Homo sapiens: one gene and its partners. The protein of the gene in region 2 interacts with the protein of the main gene of each other region in a biochemical or structural test. Each region holds a gene or a part of one and is shown on either strand. Other genes may lie near its edges. The genes, in order: CTTN, ACTR2 and BMP2.

The links.
Region 1: the proteins of ACTR2 (region 2) and CTTN form a complex in vitro, tested with the Homo sapiens proteins (one study listed by BioGRID).
Region 3: the proteins of ACTR2 (region 2) and BMP2 form a complex in vitro, tested with the Homo sapiens proteins (one study listed by BioGRID).

Annotation. Positions count from the first base shown.
Region 1 is NC_000011.10:70,429,520-70,437,734, forward strand, and holds the end of CTTN (src substrate cortactin), read left to right. Parts: intron 1-1,671; coding exon 1,672-1,761; intron 1,762-3,581; coding exon 3,582-3,759; intron 3,760-4,127; coding exon 4,128-4,199; intron 4,200-5,506; coding exon 5,507-5,643; 3' UTR 5,644-5,946; coding exon of another isoform or gene 5,947-6,225; 3' UTR 6,226-6,762; coding exon of another isoform or gene 6,763-6,889; 3' UTR 6,890-7,056; downstream 7,057-8,215.
Region 2 is NC_000002.12:65,244,007-65,252,221, forward strand, and holds part of ACTR2 (actin-related protein 2), read left to right. Parts: intron 1-2,517; coding exon 2,518-2,733; intron 2,734-7,020; coding exon 7,021-7,093; intron 7,094-8,215. UniProt on the Homo sapiens protein: ATP-binding component of the Arp2/3 complex, a multiprotein complex that mediates actin polymerization upon stimulation by nucleation-promoting factor (NPF).
Region 3 is NC_000020.11:6,776,843-6,781,118, forward strand, and holds the end of BMP2 (bone morphogenetic protein 2 preproprotein), read left to right. Parts: intron 1-1,402; coding exon 1,403-2,247; 3' UTR 2,248-3,404; downstream 3,405-4,276. UniProt on the Homo sapiens protein: Growth factor of the TGF-beta superfamily that plays essential roles in many developmental processes, including cardiogenesis, neurogenesis, and osteogenesis. Induces cartilage and bone formation.

The DNA of each region.
Region 1 (8,215 bases), on a different chromosome or scaffold from region 2:
TCCTGTCCAAATGTCAGCCTGAGTCTCTTCTCACCCCTCCCCCTCTGGAAGCCCCTCCTTTCCCAGGTGGAAGTTTGGGGTTTGGAGGGGACTCTGTGCAGAGGCAGCCTGCTCTCGGGGCCTGCTTCTGCTTGGCCAGCCCAGCCCCGCTCACCCAAGCCCCTGGGCTGTGGAGAAGCGCTCCCAGAGAAAGATGCCAGAAGTGCACCCCTGGCAGGGGCGGAGCACGAGCCTGTGTCTGGGTGCTTTGGGTCTAGCCTGGGTGGCTTGCCACTGACAAGGACTTTCCTTGTGCTCAGCTGGATCAGGGGGGTTGTGAATAGAGCCTGAGGCCTACAGATGTGTGTGTGTGAAGTTACCAGGTGTGGTTCTGCAGCTGGGGCATCTGCAGTGTGGGGCAGGCCCAGCCTGTCTGGAAGCCTGGGCTTCTCCTATCCACCCCAGGCCCTGCCCCTGCAGGGCCACACAGGACGTGCTACTTTGGGTGTTTAACCTGTGGATGGCATCAGGTGACGTGGGAATTTACAACTGTCCTGTTGGGGTCAAGCAAGGCCATAGATGCCAGGAACCGTGCTAGGGTCTCAAGACCAGGGGTGGTTTTCTCTTCAAAAAGACAAGACAGCACTACCATTGTTCCCGTTAGAGCAAGGCCGCCTGCAGAGGGAGAGGAGGGAAGGGGTTTGGAGTGGACACCTGGGGTTCAGATCCTGCCTGGGCAGCTCCCTGGCCAGTGTGCCTGTGCCTGCCACCTCACCCTCAGACTCAGCGTCTGGCACTGGAGCCCACAGGCTGTCAGTGAGTTTCCTGTTGCTGCCGTAGTCACCACCACACACAGCACACAGCTAGTGTCTTATAGCTCTGGAGGTCAGAGGTCCTCAAAGATGTCAGCAGGGCTGTGTTCCTCCTGGTGGCCCCTCGGCCCTGTCTTCCCATCTCCAGCCTCTGCTTTTGTTGTCACCGCCCCTCCTCTGTCCCTCACACTCCTGCCTCCCTCCTCTCAGGACCTTGTGATTACATTGGGTCCACCCAGGCAGTCCAGAGTTCTCCCCATCACAGAACCCTTAGTTTCATCACATACACAGTCCCTCCCCATGGGGTCTGGGGACTGCGATGTCAGCAGCTTTGAGGGGCTATTATCCTACCCCAGTTCATCCTTTGGCCCCTAAAGCTTCATGTCCATCCCATGTGCAAACATACTCAGCCCATTTTAAGGTCCCCAAAGTCTCAACCCATTGCAGCATCAACTCAGACTCCCAAATCTGTGCCTAAACTATCTAATCGTGTGTGGGCGAGAATGAGCTGTGGCCCAGTCCCGGCACTGTCGCGTCACTGGCTGTGTGATCTCGGCCTCAGAGCACACCTGCCCCTCGAATCCTGCCTAGGTGCTGGTGGGATCTGAGGCTTGGTGCTCCAGCTCCCCTGCCCCTCGGATCCTGCCTGGGTGCTGGTGGGATCTGAGACTTGGTGCTCCAGCTCCCCTGCCCCTCGGATCCTGCTGGGGTGCTGGTGGGATCTGAGGCTTGGTGCTCCAGCTCAGCCTTGGTGTGGGTGTTTTCCACTCCTTTCCCCAGAGCATGCCTAGAGCTTGCACACGATCTTCTGAAACACGGCAGGCGTGACAGTGCAGAGTGTCATGGCAGCATTCTGATTGCTGTTTGTTTTCAATCACAGGAGCAAGCCAGAGCCAAAACGCAAACGCCCCCTGTGTCGCCCGCACCTCAGCCAACCGAGGAGAGGCTGCCCTCGAGCCCCGTCTATGAGGTTGGTGTCTTTGGTGTTTGAATGAGCGTGAGTGACTTACTGCCAGAGCCCAGGTCCTGTTTGTGGAGTGGAGGAAGCCCTTGCAGGCAGGCAGTGTGGCGTGGGTGTAGAGGGCATCGCTGCATTCCACGCCCGGAGAGGGGTGGGCCAGGAGCGCCTGGGGGGTGGGTGACATGCCTCAGTGCTGTCAGGGGATAGCTGTGCAGGCCCACATGCCATCCTTTCACCCCTCTGCAGCCTGTTGTAGTCTGGCCACTGTCACTGCAGTCCCTGCTGTAGTCACCTGCTATCAGATAATCAGATGGGGGTGTCTTCACCCCACTTGCTCTCTGCTGTGCAGGACGCCGCCTCACTCCCTAATGGCAGTGCTGCCCTCCTTCATCACTGAGCCCCTGCCTCCCGCACAATCTGCCTTCTATGCCTGCCCCATTCAGCTCTCCAGCCTTGCAGCCCCTCATGAGTGTGGCTGCAGACATGCTGTCCGGCCCCTCCCTGTGCTGCTGACCCCCTCTCATGGGTCCCCCAGTGTTCCGTCCCCATCCCTGAGTTACGGAGCCGCCTGCCGATGCCCCGCCCATCCCTGACTTTGGGTCTCCTGCTCCCCGCCAGCACCTCTGCGCTAACCACACCCTCTACCTGTAACCACCTCTCCTGTCCCCAGCCCTTGCCCTTTCTCCATCCCATGGCCATCATCCTGGTCTATGCATTCATCTCTGCTCGCCCAGGAGCCAGTCAGTTACAGGGGTCACACTCCAGACCATGGTAGTTCAGGAGCCCAGAGAGAGCCCTGGAGACAGGCCGGGTCTGGGATCTGGGCCTCGATGGCCGTGGCCTTGTCACCACCCGACTGTCCCTCCTTGGCTACGCTGCTGCCTGCTGCCTTTACCCTGCCGGGCCCTGGGGGGATGTGGTAAGTGAGGCCTTGCAGCTTGTCAGGAACCGGCCTCCCCCTCTAGTCCCTCCCCTTGGCAGCCAGCGCCATCTGCCTCAAGGAAGCTCCGACCCTGCCCCTCCCGTGCAGTTCAGCCCTTGTGTGGTTCCTGGTGCCTGTGCTGAGGGTGGAGTCGCTCTCCCTGCCCGATTACTCTCCCTGGCTAGCAGCTCTCCACCACTGGCTCTTCCCAGATCTCCTGGGTGCGCGGTTCTGAGCTGTCGGCATTGCTTTCTTTCAGTCACTGCCGGTGACATCAGGTGGACCCTGGTCAGAAACATTGATTAAAGCCACTGTCGGTGATAAGCAGTTCAGAATTTTCGCTGGGGCTCCGAAGCGGCAGTGGTTATAGATAGAGAGGTGTTCCACTGCGCACCTTTGTAGTTGAATGTGATTCTTTGGCGATGCCCTGTCTGTAGGCTCAGCTGCTCTGGAGCCACGTGGTGAAGCCGCTGTCAGGCAGGGCCAGGGTCGAGCAGCACAGGCAGGAGGGTGGCCGCTCGGCCCAAGGGTGCCTTGTGTGGCCTTGGAGATGAGGCCTAAAAAAAGAAATCAGCCAAATTAACCCAACAAAGACAGGCTCTACCCCCAGGCAACAGTGTGGGCAGGGGCGTGTCTCCTAACCTGCTGTGTGGGCGTGGTTATTGCAGGACTGGAGTGTCGGTGGTGAGGACCGGGTCATCATCGGGAAGGAAATGGCATGTGGGCACTCACCACCATGGTGAACACACCGGCAGGCCTGGCCTTCCTATACCGCGTCTGTTTTCTCAGTCCTGGCTGGGACTGAGAATTAGATGGCCCGTGGGTTTCTGCTGGCTGTGGCAGTACAGCTACTGCTCTCTAGAAGCCAGCATGGGCCCCGTGCCATGTGCGTGTGACCCTTCCCCAGGATGCGGCTTCCTTCAAGGCAGAGCTGAGCTACAGAGGCCCTGTGAGTGGGACGGAGCCGGAGCCCGTGTACAGCATGGAGGCCGCTGACTACCGAGAGGCCAGCAGCCAGCAGGGCCTGGCCTATGCCACAGAGGCTGTCTATGAAAGCGCAGAGGCCCCGGGCCACTATCCCGCAGGTACTGGGGCCCCACGCTGCAGCGCCCTGCCCAGGGCAGGGAGCTCCCGGGACATCCTGCTCGACCTGTGGCGTCGTTGCGAGGAGCGTGGGTTTCCCACTGACACGCCTTTGCTTGCTTGCTATAGGGTCTTCTTGTCCCTGGAGGGAAGTGCTCTAGGCACATTTGGGGCATCGGCTCCTGTGCTGGGTCCCAGGAAGATCCCCATTGTGCTGGGGACGGGTGGGCAGGGGCAGAGGAAGGGAGGGTTTCAGCTGCCGCCCTGTGTCCTTGAGACAAAATCTTAGGAAGTGTCGTCTAAAACTTGAGAAGGCTGGGAACCTGTGTGGGACTTTGTATTGTTCAGCTCTGTCATGGCTTTCTTTTAGAGGACAGCACCTACGATGAGTACGAGAACGATCTGGGGATCACAGCCGTCGCCCTGTACGACTACCAGGCTGGTGAGCGGCCTGCAAAAGCACTTGGAGGGGAGACCCAGGCAGCTGCGCCTGCCTCTGCTTGTTTTCTGAGAATTCACTTCTCTAGCGTTGTTAGTTTTAGAAGTAATTTATGTTGAGATAATTTCAGAGATATAGAAAAGTTGCAGGTATAGTGCCAAGAACTCCCATGTTCCCTACCCGGATTCCATCTCTGCACACACACGCACACACCCCCTGTTATCTTTAGTATTCTCTGAACCCTTGGAGAGCTGCAGGGGTGCTGCCACCCCCAAAGACTCCAGCGTGTTTCCCAAGATCAAAGATGCTGTCCCACAGGGACACCCCACCCTCCAGGTGAGGGGGCCGCACAGATGCCTTGATGTTCGAGACCCCATTCCTGCCTGTCCTGCCCCGGCCGCCAGCTCCCGTGTGGCCTGCACGTTCCCCTGAGTTCCCTTTGCGGCCTTGGCAGTTTAAGAGCAGCCTCAGCTCCTGGGCTGGCCTCAGCCGCCCGCCCCGTGTTCCCTCAGGGCCAGGCTGAGCTGTGCTCTGGTGGCGGTGAGGTCTTGGAGACCATGCGGTGGGGCTCTCTGCTGGGCCGCATAGCATCCACTTGTCCCTCTGTCTCAGCCACCACCTGGTCCACAAAGTCACCACCACCCCTCTGCAGTTGACAAGCATCTTACGGGTGGCGTGGGATTCCCCTCAGAACCCCCGGCCTCTGCCTCTTGAGTGCTTCCCGTTTGCAACTTTCCATCAGCGCGGAAGCTGGCATTCTACCATAAGTGAGCGCTGGCCGTCCCCGTTCAGTGCCTTTTGCACACGTGCATTTGCGTACACGCATGTGGGTGTGTCTGTGGCATCTCGGCACCTGTGCGTGGATTCTCATCACCGTGGCTTTTGCCCTCCATTCCCATTTCAGCCATCACCTCGGGCTTCTCTCCGGGTGTCCCCTGGCTGTCCTTCCACTGCGGCCTCCGCAGCCCATCTCCCCACCCCCTCCACAGACACGTCTGCCAGAGAGAGGGGAAGGGAGGGCAGGCGGGGCTGGAGTTATGTGGTGGAAACCTGCTCCTGAGGAAGGGGTCCGGGTGGGGTTGGTGCTTGTGTGAAGGGCTCTGTGCCTCTTTGTACTCTCTCGGTTCATGTTCACAAATCCTGGCCTTGGTGGCATGGGAGAGGCAGCAGGAGCCTCCGCGGTGGTCCGCATCTCTGCAGGGGGCATCTCTGAGCAGGCTGCCTGGGAGCTTGCTCTGGGTTGTGCTTTTTTTCTGGCAGACCAGGAAACGCTTGCACTTCAGCATCTTTCTCTGTGTTCTCTTCCCCAGCGGGCGATGATGAGATCTCATTTGACCCTGATGACATCATCACCAACATCGAGATGATTGACGACGGCTGGTGGCGCGGGGTGTGCAAGGGCCGGTACGGGCTCTTCCCAGCCAACTATGTGGAGCTGCGGCAGTAGGGCCCCCAGCCCCCCCCCGGAGCTGCGCCCTGGATCCTCACACTACAGATCAGGCCTTCTTTGGTTCTTGGGTGGTTTTGGGTTTTTTCTGTTTTTTTTTTTTTTTTTTTTTTTTTGAAGGTGGGGAGGGGAATATACACATTGCTTTTATATTTAATACTTTTGCTGATGCTTTTGAAAATGTTTATGCCACAGAATTTGCTAATATATTGTAATCACATTCCTTAGGAGGACTTTGGTAATTGGTTTTATGCATTGATGGTTTTTTTTTTCTTTTTTGCCAAATTGACTGTCACGCGGCAGCTTCAGGGAGCTCGCATTCTCTTGTGTTCGTGTTGCCCTCGTGCCCATCAAGTGCAGTCGGGACCTCCCAGGACAAGCACGAGGCCTCAGGTCGGCCCTGTGGCGGGTAGGCAGGAAGGACTGTCCCAGACGAGGGGCTTCCTCTAGAGTCTCACTGCTGGGGAGGAGAGGACTGGGCCTGATGGAAGTTAACCCGGAGCTAAGTCACCCAGAGCACAGGAGCTGCCATGTCAGATGGGAAATCTGCCTATGTCATACCGTGACAGCCCGCAGGATCAGGTGACTTCTAGCAGAGACCCTGGTTTTTTTCCTGTGCCCACTCCGGCTTGTCCTCATCTCTACCCATCCCCTGATGCCCAGGTCACCGGGAGGGCTGCTGGGAGCCTCTCCTGTCCCCGCCGGGCAGTGTCACTGAGTCCTTGAAATCCTCCCCTGCCCCGCGGGTCTCTGGATTGGGACGCACAGTGCAGTTGAGGTCTGCGTCGGGCTTGGCTTTTCACAAAGGCTGATGTCTTAACTGTCACCCATATGGTCCCTGGGCCACCGGGCAGCCTGGGGCGGTGTGTGTGCCATGTCACAGCATGGCCTCTCGGCCTTGGGAAGGAAGGCAGTGCCTGCTCTGCTGTGAGCCGCCAGGAACCCTCCTCCTGTCAATGGGGGTGTAGTATTTTTGCCAAAATATCATGTTCAATTTCAGTAGTTTGATCAGTTGAAGGCTAGAAGTGTGAAGTGCAGATGAGTGTGTGTTCTTCCCCAAGGTCCCCCCACAGCTCCAGGACACCGCTGTCCTGGCATTTGTGGCCACTCACTTTGTAGGAAACTCATCTCCTTCCTGAGGAGCCGGGAGGCTGGACCAGTCCCGTCGTGCAGTCAGGTGGGCGGTGTGTCTTTCCAGAAGGTCACGTGGAAATGTCTCGGGACTTGGGTCCCGGAGTGCCCGTGAAGCGTGTTTTTGCTCCTGAGGTGCATTTTCTCATCATCCTTGCTTTACCACAATGAGCAATGAGGTCGGGTTTTATATGCAACTTATTGTATCTGAATTCCTGTAGCACACCTCATAGGTATGATTTTTTTAAATTAAAGAATTCAGAATAAACATTTTTTGATCCACTTGCGTGATTTGCTTTGGTCTGTGGTCACTCCGTTCTGCAGTGGAAGCTGCGTCGACACTCTCGGTGTCCTGCGCCCCGGACCTGGGCTGGCGGAGGCTCTCCTGCCGTCCAGTGCGTCTCACGCGTTCTGTTCTGGCTTTAGACCGAACCGTACGTTCCCTTTTCAGTGTTCATTCAAAGGTGCTGCTTATGAACTGAAATGTGTTTACTCTGGCAGATGATTCAGTTTTTTGCACAAAGGTTCCAAGCAAAATAAAACACTCTGTGCTTAAAAGTCATTTCTGAATTACAGTTCTCAAATCCTGAGGGGGATTTTGCTCCCAGTCTCGTTTTGCTCAGGGGCACCAGAAGTTAAAGGCTAAGGGGAACAGTGGCACTGAGGGAGCAGGTGTGCCCTCGGGAGCCGGGGGTGCTGGGGAGCTGGGTTCCGGCTCACACTTCTGCCCATCAGGTGCTCCCAGGGAGCTTTCGGCTACACGACATGCCTGCTACCCCTTCCAACCTGGGTGGTGACGGAGCACTGCCTCCTCCCTTGGGCTGTCCCACACCTGCCTCTGGCTTAGGAAACAGTGCCTCTGCCAGCTCTGCCCACAGGAGCCTAACGTGAGAGTGCCCCCGCCCTCCTGCCACAACCGGGCTGCTGTGGGTTCTGCATCACAGGGTTGCAGCCCTAACGGCGAGCCCCGTCCCACACAGGGCCTGTCTGCTGGGTGAGATTGCAGCCACCTGCAGGGAGCTGAGTCCTGAAGAAATGAGGCATGAAGGCTTGTGAACCAGGGGAAAGTCCCAGCCAGGGTGGGCAGACGGGGTCAGGGGGCTGGAGGACAGGGTGTGACGAAGGGAGGGGGCCATGCAGAAAGGGCCCCCGCTGGCCCACTGTCTGCCCAGTCGGTGTGTGCCTGTGCCGCCTGCGGATGAGCATGGCAGGGGCTCAACAGGAGCGGGACACATCTTGAGTGGGTCTGTGTTTCTGTTCTATTGGTGGCCAAGCGTGGCCTGGCAGCTTGAGTGCCTGGAGCCAACCACCTGAATCTTAGCCGCTTTCTTTTTAGATGTGGTTGGGGTTTTTTGTTTCTGTTTCTTGAGAAAGGGTCTTGCTCTTTCGCCCAGGCTGGAGTACAGTGGCGTGATCTCCGCTCCTGCAACCTGTGCACCCA
Region 2 (8,215 bases):
GTCAAACTTTGTACTTCTTAAATAAGTTAATACTCCATTTTAAATGTCCTGTTTGTTCTGAGGAAGGTAAGGATACTCAATTCCAAACATTTCTTTCAGTTAATCCTTTATAGTATGTGTGGTCCTAGAAGTAGATACATGAGGCATTTATTTAGAGTTGGCATTGGGTCATGTAAATGTAAGCCCCTATTTGTACATTAAATAAAAAGTAAATTTCTGTTGAAATCAGATCAGACTTATTTCAAATTGGTTGAAATAATACTGATTATATTATCTAATTATCTAATCTGTTATCTTGTACAACACACAAAAAAGACGTAAAGTTAGTAACAAAAATGGTATATATAATTACAGGTATAGATTTCCCCCCTAACATTTTATTAAGCAGTATTAAGAAAATGTAGCAATATTGAAATGATTTTACAATGAAACTTGTATATCCATCACCTGGATTCTGACATTAATATATATCATACTGATTTATTACATATCTGTTCATCTGTTCATTCATCAGTGCATCTTGTTTTTTGATGGATTTCAAAGTAAGTTGCAGATACCAGTATACTTCTCCCTGAATACTTCAACATGTGCATGTTATTAACTAGAATTCACAAATACAGATTTTTAGTTTTGCATATTCCTCATAGAAGAATCTAAACGGTTGGGTGTGGTGATTCATGCCTATAATCCTAGCACTTTGGGAGGCTGAGGTGGGCGGATCCCTTGAGCCCAGGAGTTCAAGACCAGCCTGGGCAACATGGTGAAACCCTGTCTCTACTAAAAATACAAGAATTAGCTGGGCATGTAGCCTGTAGTCCCAGCTACTTGGGAGGCTAAGGTGGGAGGATCACCTGAGCCTGGGGAGGTTGAGGCTGTGGTAAGCAATAATGGCACCACTGCACTCCAGCTTGGGTGACAGAGTGAGACCCCATCTCAAAAAAAAAAAAAAAAAAGAGTGTAAACATTTAATATTTCAGATATTTGAGTAATAAGTTAGTAAGTTATGGTAAATGAACTTCATAAGAAATTGCAACAAATTTTTACTGAGCATTTCTAGCATCTGTTTTTAACTTTGTTATACTTTTTGATGCTTTTAGTGGATTTTCCAGAGATCTGTTTGGTTTTTTGTTAGAGTCCTCACCTTGGTTTCATCTCTGATATTTTCTTTTTCTTTTTTTTTTAATTTAAAACTCATATATTTTTAAGCCTTTGTTTTAAAACATCTCATGTTGGCCAGGTGTGGTGGCTCATGCCTGTAATCCCAACACTTTGGGAGGCCGAGATGGGTGAATTACTTGAGGTCAGGAGTTTGAGACCAGCTTGGCCAACATGGTGAAACCCCATCTCTACTAAAAATACAAAAATTAGCCAGGCGTGGTGGCAGGTGCCTGTAATCCCAGCTACTCAGGAGGCTGAGGCAGGAGAATCGCTTGAACCTGGGAGGCAGAGGTTGTAGTGAGCTGAGATCATGCCACTGCGCTCTAGCCTGGGCAGTAGAGCGAGACTCAGTCTCAAAAAAATAATCTCGTGTTAATTTTGCTGCTGCTTTTTTTTGTCTCTCCATAATTAAAACTTAACGTATTGTAGCAAATATCTACTTCTGATACTAGTTTTTTTAATTGAATTTATCAACATATGTAGAAATTAGTATTATTTAACCTCTTGACTAGCTGTTCTCTAAAAATAAGTCTAAATGCTAGGACATCCTTACTTATTATATATAGAAAATGTGACTTTCAAATGTGGGTCATCTTAAGTATGCTCTCATTGGAGACAAGACTTGTGAGTATTATGCTTCATGTGTGATGGTGTAGTTTTCCAGTATACTTTAAGATTGAAAATGTTGCTCAGGAGACAATTTTAAAGGATGGGTTATTTGCCTATATCTTAATTTTTTATAACTCTACAAATTCTCATTCACCTTGGTGAGGCATATGTAGAAACAGTTTAAATTCTTATTCAGGCATATGTAGATAGAAGTTTGTGCTATTTATTAGTTGGTGTATGTATGCATTATTATAGAGTAATAAAGAATCATTTTATTTTTTGCTTCTTTCATTATGCTTTATAGTACTTACATTTATCATTTTGATATTTAGTGCAAAGAAATGTGCTGCATGCATTGAGCATTTTTCTACAAGTTTTTTTCCCCCTGATGTGCTATTTCACATATCACAGGCCTTATTTTTTGAACAATTGAGCAAAAGAAACAGATGAAACCTCATACAAAACCCTCCAAAATATGAAAATGTGGGGTTTATTTGTGCTAATGCTCTTCTTTTGGAAACATTTGTGTTAAAGGTAAGGTCAATTTATTGATTTAAACCACATTGTATGTAAAAATGTATTATCCATGATTAAACTTTCTAAGACATTGTTCTTGATAGAAAAGATTTTCTAACTTGTGGAATAAAAAGATTTATTTTGCAAGTGTCAGAAATATTAAAATTAATTATTCCCAAGTTTTCTTAAATATTATGCAAAACTTTGATCTACAGCTTTGACATAATTTTCTAGGATCTTATGGTTGGTGATGAGGCAAGTGAATTACGATCAATGTTAGAAGTTAACTACCCTATGGAAAATGGCATAGTACGAAATTGGGATGACATGAAACACCTGTGGGACTACACATTTGGACCAGAGAAACTTAATATAGATACCAGAAATTGTAAAATCTTACTCACAGAACCTCCTATGAACCCAACCAAAAACAGAGAGAAGATTGTAGAGGTGAGTTTTTATGCAGGATATGCATATGTGTATTTCTGTGATATTATGTTAAATCAAAAATTTTCTTACTGTTGCTATGGATAAAGAGAATAAAAATAATTGTTTTCCTTCAGATCTTATTAAGTATCTACTATATGCTAGTCATTATTCTAAGTAGGAAAGTAGGATAGATCAGTAAACAAAAAATCCTACTGCCATGGAGTGTATATATTCTAACAGGGAAAAACAGACCAAAAAAATTAAGTTTTTAATTTAGTGAGTTAATTAAGTTAATTAAGTTTTTATGGAGGAGCCAGCAGAAGGAGACTGAAAAGGCTAATACAATAAGCAGTTACAGAGTTAATTAAATGGTTTGTTAGAAGGTGAGTGATCCAGTTGACCCATGAGCAATGCAGGGGTTAGGGGCACCAACCCTCCCTACTCACGTGCAAACTTAACTACCACCCAAAATACTTAACTTCTAATAGCCTACTGTTGACCAGAAGCCTTACTGATAACATAATATGTATTATATACTATATTCTTAACAATAAAGTAAGCTAGAGGAAATACTGTTAAGAAAATCATGGCCGGGCGCGGTGGCTCACGCCTGTAATCTCAGCACTTTGGGAGGCGGAGGCGGGCAGATCACAAGGTCAGGAGATCGAGACCATCCTGGCTAACACAGTGAAACTCCGTCTCTACTAAAAATACAAAAAATTAGCCGGGCGTGGTGGCGGGTGCCTGTAGTCCCAGCTACTCAGGAGGCTGAGGCAGGAGAATGACGTGAACCCTTGAGGCAGAGCTTGCAGTGAGTGGAGATCGTGCCACTGCACTCCAGCCTGGGCGACAGAGCGAGACTCCGTCTCAAAAAAAAATAAAAAATCATAAGAGAAAATACATTTACTATACCTTAAGTGGATGTAGATCATCATAAAGATCTTCATCGTCATTGTCTTCACACCGACGAAGAAGAGGAGGGGTTGGTCTTGCTGTCTCGGGTGGCAGAGACAGAAGAGGTGCAAGGGGAGGCAGGAAAGATTTATTGACAAAAATCGTGTATAAGTGGACCTGTGTGGTTCAAACTTGTTGTTATTCATGGATCAGCTGTAGATGCTAAAGGCAAAATAAATCAGGTTAACGGGGAGTGGGAGGTTGTAATTGTACATAGGTTGTGAGAAGGTGATGTTTAAACAGACAGGGTAAGTGAGTTAGCCAGGGTATATAGGAGAATGGTATTCCAGATAAAGGGAGTAGCCAGTGTAAAGGTCTTAAGTTAGGAACAAGCTTGGTATATTAAAGAATAAGCAAGGAAGCCAGTGTGGTTGAGGAGAGAGCAACAGAAGATGAGGTCGAGTAAGTAATATTGGTGCCTTGTAGGCTCTAATTAGGAATTGGGCGGCTGGAAGTGGTGGTTCAGGCCTGTAATCCCAGCACTTCTGGGAGGCCGAGGTGGGCGGATCACGAGGTCAAGAGTTCGAGACCAGCCTGACCAACATAGTGAAACGCCATCTCTACTAAAAATACAAAAATTAACTGGGCATAGTGGTGCGTGCCTGTAATCCCAGCTACTTGGGAGGCTGGGGCAGGAGAATCGCTTGAACCCAGGAGGCAGATGCTGCAGTGAGCCGAGATTACACCACTGCATTCCAGCCTGGGCGACAGGGTGAGACTCAGTCTCAAAAAGAAAAAAAGGGAATTGGGCTTTTACTGTGGGTGAAATATGGGGCTGTTACAGGAAAAGGAGATGCTCAGATTTAGATTTCTCTTGTGTTGTGAGTATCCCACAAGGAGGCAAAGATAGAAGAGTTGGAGACTTTTTCAGTCATTTAAGCAAAAGATAATGATGGTTAGGATTGAAGTAGTAGTAGTAGAGATAGTGAGAAATTACCAGATTATAGGTCTGTTTTGAAGGTAGGGCTATAAATGATACGGTTCAACAAAGAAGAGGGTAGACAGTGGTGAAAAGGCCAAGGACCAGAGAGATAGGAGGAGCCAGCAGAAGGAGATTGAAAACGTTATTGAGGCCGGGCTAGGTGGCTCCCAGCACTTTGGGAGGCCAAGGCGGGTGGATCACTTGAGACTAGGAATTTGAGACCAGCCTGGCCAACATGGCAAAACTCCGTCTCTACTAAAAACACAAAATTAGCTGGGCATAGTGGTGCACGCCTGTAATCCCAGCTACGCAGGAGGCTGAGGCAGGAGAATTGCTTGAACCCAGGAGGTGGAGGTTGCAGTGAGCTGAGATCACCCCACTGCACTCCAACCTGAGCGACAGAGCGAGACTCTGTCTCAAAAAGAAAAAAGAAAAAGAAAAAAAAAGTTAATGAAATAATGAAATAAGCAGTTACAGAGGAAAGAGAGAGCAAGAGAGCTATGATCCTCATAGTTTAAATAAGTAATTTTTCAAGGTTCTTTTATTTTTGTATATATGAAGTAGAAATTTAATAACTTCTGTAGCTTTCCAGTTACTGTTTAATGTACATATTTTGTTTACGAATATGTTTAAATGTTGATGGAAATTTTTGAAAGGGTTTAGAAGAAAATGTTGTTAGTATTTTTAAAGCCTGTATTAAAACTCAGTTTTTGTATTAAGTGTTTTGAAAATCTAAGATCATGGTTTTAAAGAATCCATATGATTTCTTATGGCTTATATTTTAATATTCTTATTTGTTTATGACTACAAATATGTCTATGACTGATAGTGTCCTACCTTAATCTCATTAACATGCTTTCACATTGGTATGTGCATATATATGATCATTCTTCCATTTTCATCCCTGTGGAGGTGGAATAAAGGATGATGGAATAAAATACTATTCAGACTATCTAATTGCTTAATTGATGAGTATGTGTTTCAGAGTTGTAGAATTTAAATTCTGTGTAATTTTCATTGTGGTCAGTTGTAAAATTTCTAAATATTTAGATATTCAGAGTGATAGGCAACCCTACCAGTCAAGGGGTGCTCAGTCAAGATCACCAAAAAAAAAATCATGCAGGATGTTCCCAGCTGACCTGGGCTACAGAGAATGAACATGTGTGTGACCAGTGAGGGCAAAAAGGAAAGAACTCCTCCTTCCAGGGTAGTTCATTTGGAGGTTGTAATTACAGTCTTGATTCAAGTAGGGACTGGGCTCAGCAGCTAAGCCATTTCTGTATCTTCCAGCAATCAGGAATTAACCATTGATTTTTGTCTTTGCCGTGGCATTTTACTGGGTTTTTTATTTTTTCTTTCTTTCTTTCTTTTAATTTTTAAGCTGCTCAGGGTAGACAGAGCTACACTCTTGGCCCAGATTGAGGGAGGGGGTACGAGGCTCTGTAAAGCAATTTCTATATTTTGTCTTCGAATTAAAAGATATTTCCCGGCCGGGTGCGGTGGCTCACGCCTGTAATCCCAGCACTTTGGGAGGCCGAGGCAGGCGGATCATGAGGTCAGGAGATGGAGACCATCCTGGCTAACACGGTGAAACCCTGTCTCTACTAAAAATACTAAAAATTAGCCGGGTGTGGTGGTGTACGCCTGTAGTCCCAGCTACTCGGGAGGCTGAGGCAGGAGAATGGCGTGAACCAGGGAGGTGGAGGTTGCAGTGAGCTGAGATGGCACCACTGCACTCCAGCCTGGGCGACAGAGCAAGACTCCGTCTCAAAAAAAGAAAAAAAAAAGATATTTCCCTGGCTGGATGTGGTGGCTGACACCTGTAATCCCAGCACTTTGGGAGGCCGAGGTGGGTGGATCATGAGGTCAGGAGTTCGAGACTAGCCTGGCCAACATAGTGAAACCCTGTCTGTACTAAAAATACAAAAATTAGCCAGGCATGGTGGTGCATGCCTGTAGTCCCAGCTACTCAGGAGGCTGAGGCAGGAGAATCAGTTGAACCCTGGAGGTGGAGGTTGCAGTGAGCCAAGATTGCGCCACTGCACTCCAGCTTGGGCAACAGAGTGAGACTTCATCTCAAAAAAAAAAAAAAAAAAAAAGAATTTCCCTTAAGGGATATCAATTAAGAAAGTCTTGTTCAATACAGAGAGCTTTCTTTCACACTAATTAGTCATTAACTAATACACTAAGAAATCTTTGCTTTGTCACGCTTATGAAATGCTTGGGGACTTAGAAATCTGTCTTCAGATTTGGAGCTCTGTGGCAGCAGGACTTCAATAAGAAATAAGAGGAGCTGATGAAAATGGAAGACTATTTCAGGTCCATTTGATTCTATTTTGGGCAATTAATTCACTCTGTGACCATGAGGAAAACATTTATTTATTATGTAATTTTCTAAATACCAGTTTTTTTCTTTCTGTCTGCATTTACAGGTAATGTTTGAAACTTACCAGTTTTCCGGTGTATATGTAGCCATCCAGGCAGTTCTGACTTTGTACGCTCAAGGTAGGTTAAGCTTAACTGTTAGAAAAAACACTTCATCAAACATTTATTATGTATGTTTTATGTCAGAGAATTTGGTTTCTCAATAAGTTATAAGCCCCAGAAAACTACATTATTTATATACCACACTTTGAAATATTTTCAGTTTTTAAAATTTGTGAAATAAGATTTTATATACATTTTTATTTGCTAAATATGTATTTAAGGTAAAAAAAAAAGGCTTAAAGACTTATTTTTTAAAAAATAGGATATTCTCTCTTTTAAGCTATTTAAATTTTTTTTGAGACAGATTTTCGCTTTTGTTGCCCAGGCCGGAGTGCAATAGTGCAATCTTGGCTTACCACAACCTCCACCTCCTGGGTTCAAGTGATTTTCCTGCCTCAGCCTCCCAAGTATTTGGGATTACAGGCATGTGCCACCACACCTGGCTAATTTTGTATTTTTAGTAGAGATGGGGTTTCTCCATATTGGTCAGGCTGGTCTCAAACTCCTGACCTCAGGTAGTCCGCCCGCCTCAGCCTCCTGAAGTGCTGGGATTACAGGCATGAGTCACCGTGCCTGGCATAGCTATTTTAATTTTTTATGCATGGAATTTGTCCCCAGAATTGGCTTGAGTTAAAAAAAATACGCAGAGATTCAAAAAGGTAGCATAAAATCATGCCTGTCAAATATATAGTAGATTAAAAAGGAGAAGGTAAACATTTGGGAGTGCATTTCTAACTTTTGAGGTGGGTTTAATGGAGGGGACTACTTATATATTCTCTTGATATTGCCATTAGCAACTGCCTCCCTCTTTATTGGAAATAAAATATTGGCCACGTTGGGAGAGCTCTTTTTTTTTTTTATGGTCTTATAAATTCAACAGGAACTTACTGAGAATGTCTGGGCCTGTCAGATATGTGCCAAGGAGTCTTTTAGGCACTTCAGGGGATAATCCAGTGGGAAAAGAGTGTGGCACTGGAAATGGGTCAAGTGTGTTTGGAGAAAGGCCAGTATGTGTGTGACCTGATGGAAGTGGTAGAAAATAAGGTGAGGTGGGTAGGGAGGGCTCTTTGGGAAATAAAATGTAAATTCTTGCATTAGTCAGTGTTCCTGGGAGTATTTTTGAATTGATGATGGTGTGAA
Region 3 (4,276 bases), on a different chromosome or scaffold from region 2:
GCTAAGGCATCTAGATTCAGTGCACAACTTACAGCTGTTTGTCTTTAGGGGAAATACAACTGTAAAATTAATAAAAACATAGTCTCTTCTTATGATAACATGGAACGATGGCAAAATAGATTTTGTTAGCACTTGGGTAGGAATTCTGAATGAAGCAGGCAAATTCTGTTGGCAGTGAAATGATAGGATGTGGTAAAGTTAGAATAAAATAAACTTAAATGTCTCAAACTCTCATGGTATATACTACCAGTTTAATAATAATGTTGTACCTTTGATGATTTGCAGACTACAAGCATTCAAGGTGCTGTGTTATATATTACTTGCTTGGAGAATAATACTTCTTAAAAATTGAAATTCAGAAATTTTAAATCAGACAAAGCTTTTGTGCATGGCCCACTTAAATGGCTATTTTGAAATAATGATAGTGGATATAGAAGGATTATTCTGTAATAGGATGAGACTGTTCCTTTTGTCATGGAGATCATAATCATATTTTTGTAAATTTTTATTATTTTTTTGGTTTTGTGTCCATCCTGCACACTATTACTGGGTAGGTACATGGTTTTTTAACATGGTTTATCTTTCAAAACTATAAAGGCATTGCAAACAGAAGACAGGTCATTTATTTTTCTTCCAAAAGCATCTAAAATGAGATTTTGATATTTGAGGTCATAAAGAGGTGAGAGAACAGACAACAGTTGGGAAAGCTATTTCTCTTGAAATTGTTTGGCCTTAATTACTACAGTGTCCTAGTACCACCCATACGTTTCCAAAGAAGTAGATCCCTGTAAATGCCTTTGTCTCTGGACTTTTGAGTAAAATAGTAGGGTGTGCTTTGCAAAATGTCATCGTTGATGTTGAGTTTCAGAGTCTTTAATTAGGAAGCTGAAATCTGTATATCGAGATTTGTAAATCATCTAAATTGCAGAGTAATGTTTTAGAATACTGCTTAAGGGATTGGCATTAAAGCCTTTTTTAAAAAAGAAATGCAATAATTTCCTCAAATCCTCACTCATTAGACCTCTACTAACTATAGTGCTGACTTTTTTTTTTTTTTACCCTAAAGTCTGGAATTCCAAAGAAATGCTTCACCATTTCCCCCATTATTATAGCCACCTGGAAGCAGTATTCATGTATTAGATCAAAAACACAACAAAGAATTATGAAAGGTTGTTTCCTGGTATGCAATGCATGATGACATGAACTTACAGAACAGAGAGAAGGGAGGCTCCATGTTTATTTAAAGAGGAAATTTTTATTTTCTGGTTACCTACTTTTACATGGGTTACATCAAATCCCACGATGAGGTTTAAAAATTCTCATAGATAATCAAACGTCATTACTTGGCTTACTGAAATTCAGACTTTTCTTTTTTCTTCCCTGTTTTTCTCTATCAAATTAGAATCTTTGGAAGAACTACCAGAAACGAGTGGGAAAACAACCCGGAGATTCTTCTTTAATTTAAGTTCTATCCCCACGGAGGAGTTTATCACCTCAGCAGAGCTTCAGGTTTTCCGAGAACAGATGCAAGATGCTTTAGGAAACAATAGCAGTTTCCATCACCGAATTAATATTTATGAAATCATAAAACCTGCAACAGCCAACTCGAAATTCCCCGTGACCAGACTTTTGGACACCAGGTTGGTGAATCAGAATGCAAGCAGGTGGGAAAGTTTTGATGTCACCCCCGCTGTGATGCGGTGGACTGCACAGGGACACGCCAACCATGGATTCGTGGTGGAAGTGGCCCACTTGGAGGAGAAACAAGGTGTCTCCAAGAGACATGTTAGGATAAGCAGGTCTTTGCACCAAGATGAACACAGCTGGTCACAGATAAGGCCATTGCTAGTAACTTTTGGCCATGATGGAAAAGGGCATCCTCTCCACAAAAGAGAAAAACGTCAAGCCAAACACAAACAGCGGAAACGCCTTAAGTCCAGCTGTAAGAGACACCCTTTGTACGTGGACTTCAGTGACGTGGGGTGGAATGACTGGATTGTGGCTCCCCCGGGGTATCACGCCTTTTACTGCCACGGAGAATGCCCTTTTCCTCTGGCTGATCATCTGAACTCCACTAATCATGCCATTGTTCAGACGTTGGTCAACTCTGTTAACTCTAAGATTCCTAAGGCATGCTGTGTCCCGACAGAACTCAGTGCTATCTCGATGCTGTACCTTGACGAGAATGAAAAGGTTGTATTAAAGAACTATCAGGACATGGTTGTGGAGGGTTGTGGGTGTCGCTAGTACAGCAAAATTAAATACATAAATATATATATATATATATATTTTAGAAAAAAGAAAAAAACAAACAAACAAAAAAACCCCACCCCAGTTGACACTTTAATATTTCCCAATGAAGACTTTATTTATGGAATGGAATGGAAAAAAAAACAGCTATTTTGAAAATATATTTATATCTACGAAAAGAAGTTGGGAAAACAAATATTTTAATCAGAGAATTATTCCTTAAAGATTTAAAATGTATTTAGTTGTACATTTTATATGGGTTCAACCCCAGCACATGAAGTATAATGGTCAGATTTATTTTGTATTTATTTACTATTATAACCACTTTTTAGGAAAAAAATAGCTAATTTGTATTTATATGTAATCAAAAGAAGTATCGGGTTTGTACATAATTTTCCAAAAATTGTAGTTGTTTTCAGTTGTGTGTATTTAAGATGAAAAGTCTACATGGAAGGTTACTCTGGCAAAGTGCTTAGCACGTTTGCTTTTTTGCAGTGCTACTGTTGAGTTCACAAGTTCAAGTCCAGAAAAAAAAAGTGGATAATCCACTCTGCTGACTTTCAAGATTATTATATTATTCAATTCTCAGGAATGTTGCAGAGTGATTGTCCAATCCATGAGAATTTACATCCTTATTAGGTGGAATATTTGGATAAGAACCAGACATTGCTGATCTATTATAGAAACTCTCCTCCTGCCCCTTAATTTACAGAAAGAATAAAGCAGGATCCATAGAAATAATTAGGAAAACGATGAACCTGCAGGAAAGTGAATGATGGTTTGTTGTTCTTCTTTCCTAAATTAGTGATCCCTTCAAAGGGGCTGATCTGGCCAAAGTATTCAATAAAACGTAAGATTTCTTCATTATTGATATTGTGGTCATATATATTTAAAATTGATATCTCGTGGCCCTCATCAAGGGTTGGAAATTTATTTGTGTTTTACCTTTACCTCATCTGAGAGCTCTTTATTCTCCAAAGAACCCAGTTTTCTAACTTTTTGCCCAACACGCAGCAAAATTATGCACATCGTGTTTTCTGCCCACCCTCTGTTCTCTGACCTATCAGCTTGCTTTTCTTTCCAAGGTTGTGTGTTTGAACACATTTCTCCAAATGTTAAACCTATTTCAGATAATAAATATCAAATCTCTGGCATTTCATTCTATAAAGTCCAACCTGTAAGAGAAAATGGTGCATTTGTATAGCGCTTACAATGATGACCTTGTGTTTGCATTTTTGTTTCTGAAGTTATATATTTTAGAGGGGGTGGGGGAAAGGTAATGAATGGCTGGAAAATTGCAGGCAAGTTATTTGATAAGTCATATTTGCACTAAAGGTGTTACCAGTGATTTAGTATTTTTCAAATGAACTTCTTTGGGGCAGAAAGATTTAAGGGAAAACTAAAGCCTACAAAACAAGCAAAACCTGGATAACCCGAGATAAAGTTTCAGAGATAATAGCCCATGCAACAGAGGCAACGGTGCCAGAAAATTAGAAAGGGAAAGTGTCGGAGATCAGCTTCTATAAGAACATCTGCCAGTTGGACTGACGCCCAAACAGAATGAAGTCAAATTAGGCTGCTCAGATTGAACACTTACCAGAGTGTCAGGGCTTCTGTACCCTGGGTTAGAATCAGACCAAGGAAGGGTTCAGCAGATGTTCATAAGAGCAGGGCACCCACAACTACCCACTATTTTACTGGCAGTATTTTAGGTCAGTTTCCAGGACTTTGCATCCCCTCTGATCCTGCCATGCATGATTGGTGAAACCTACCTCTAATCTCCTTGGAATTGGCTAAAAAACAGTGTGTTTATAATGGAACAGACTGTTATAATCAAATTCTTCCTAGGAATTAACTTTTGATGACTATGAGCTTAGTTACAGTTCGGAGGTTATGAGGTTATGTAAACCTTATCTTTAAATGTGCATGACAGTTATCTTTTACTAATGCTGGTTAACTTTTAAAATCTTGCAGCTCCTTTTTATCTCTAGTTCTATTGTTCTTGATTAGGTGAGAACCATTAGAT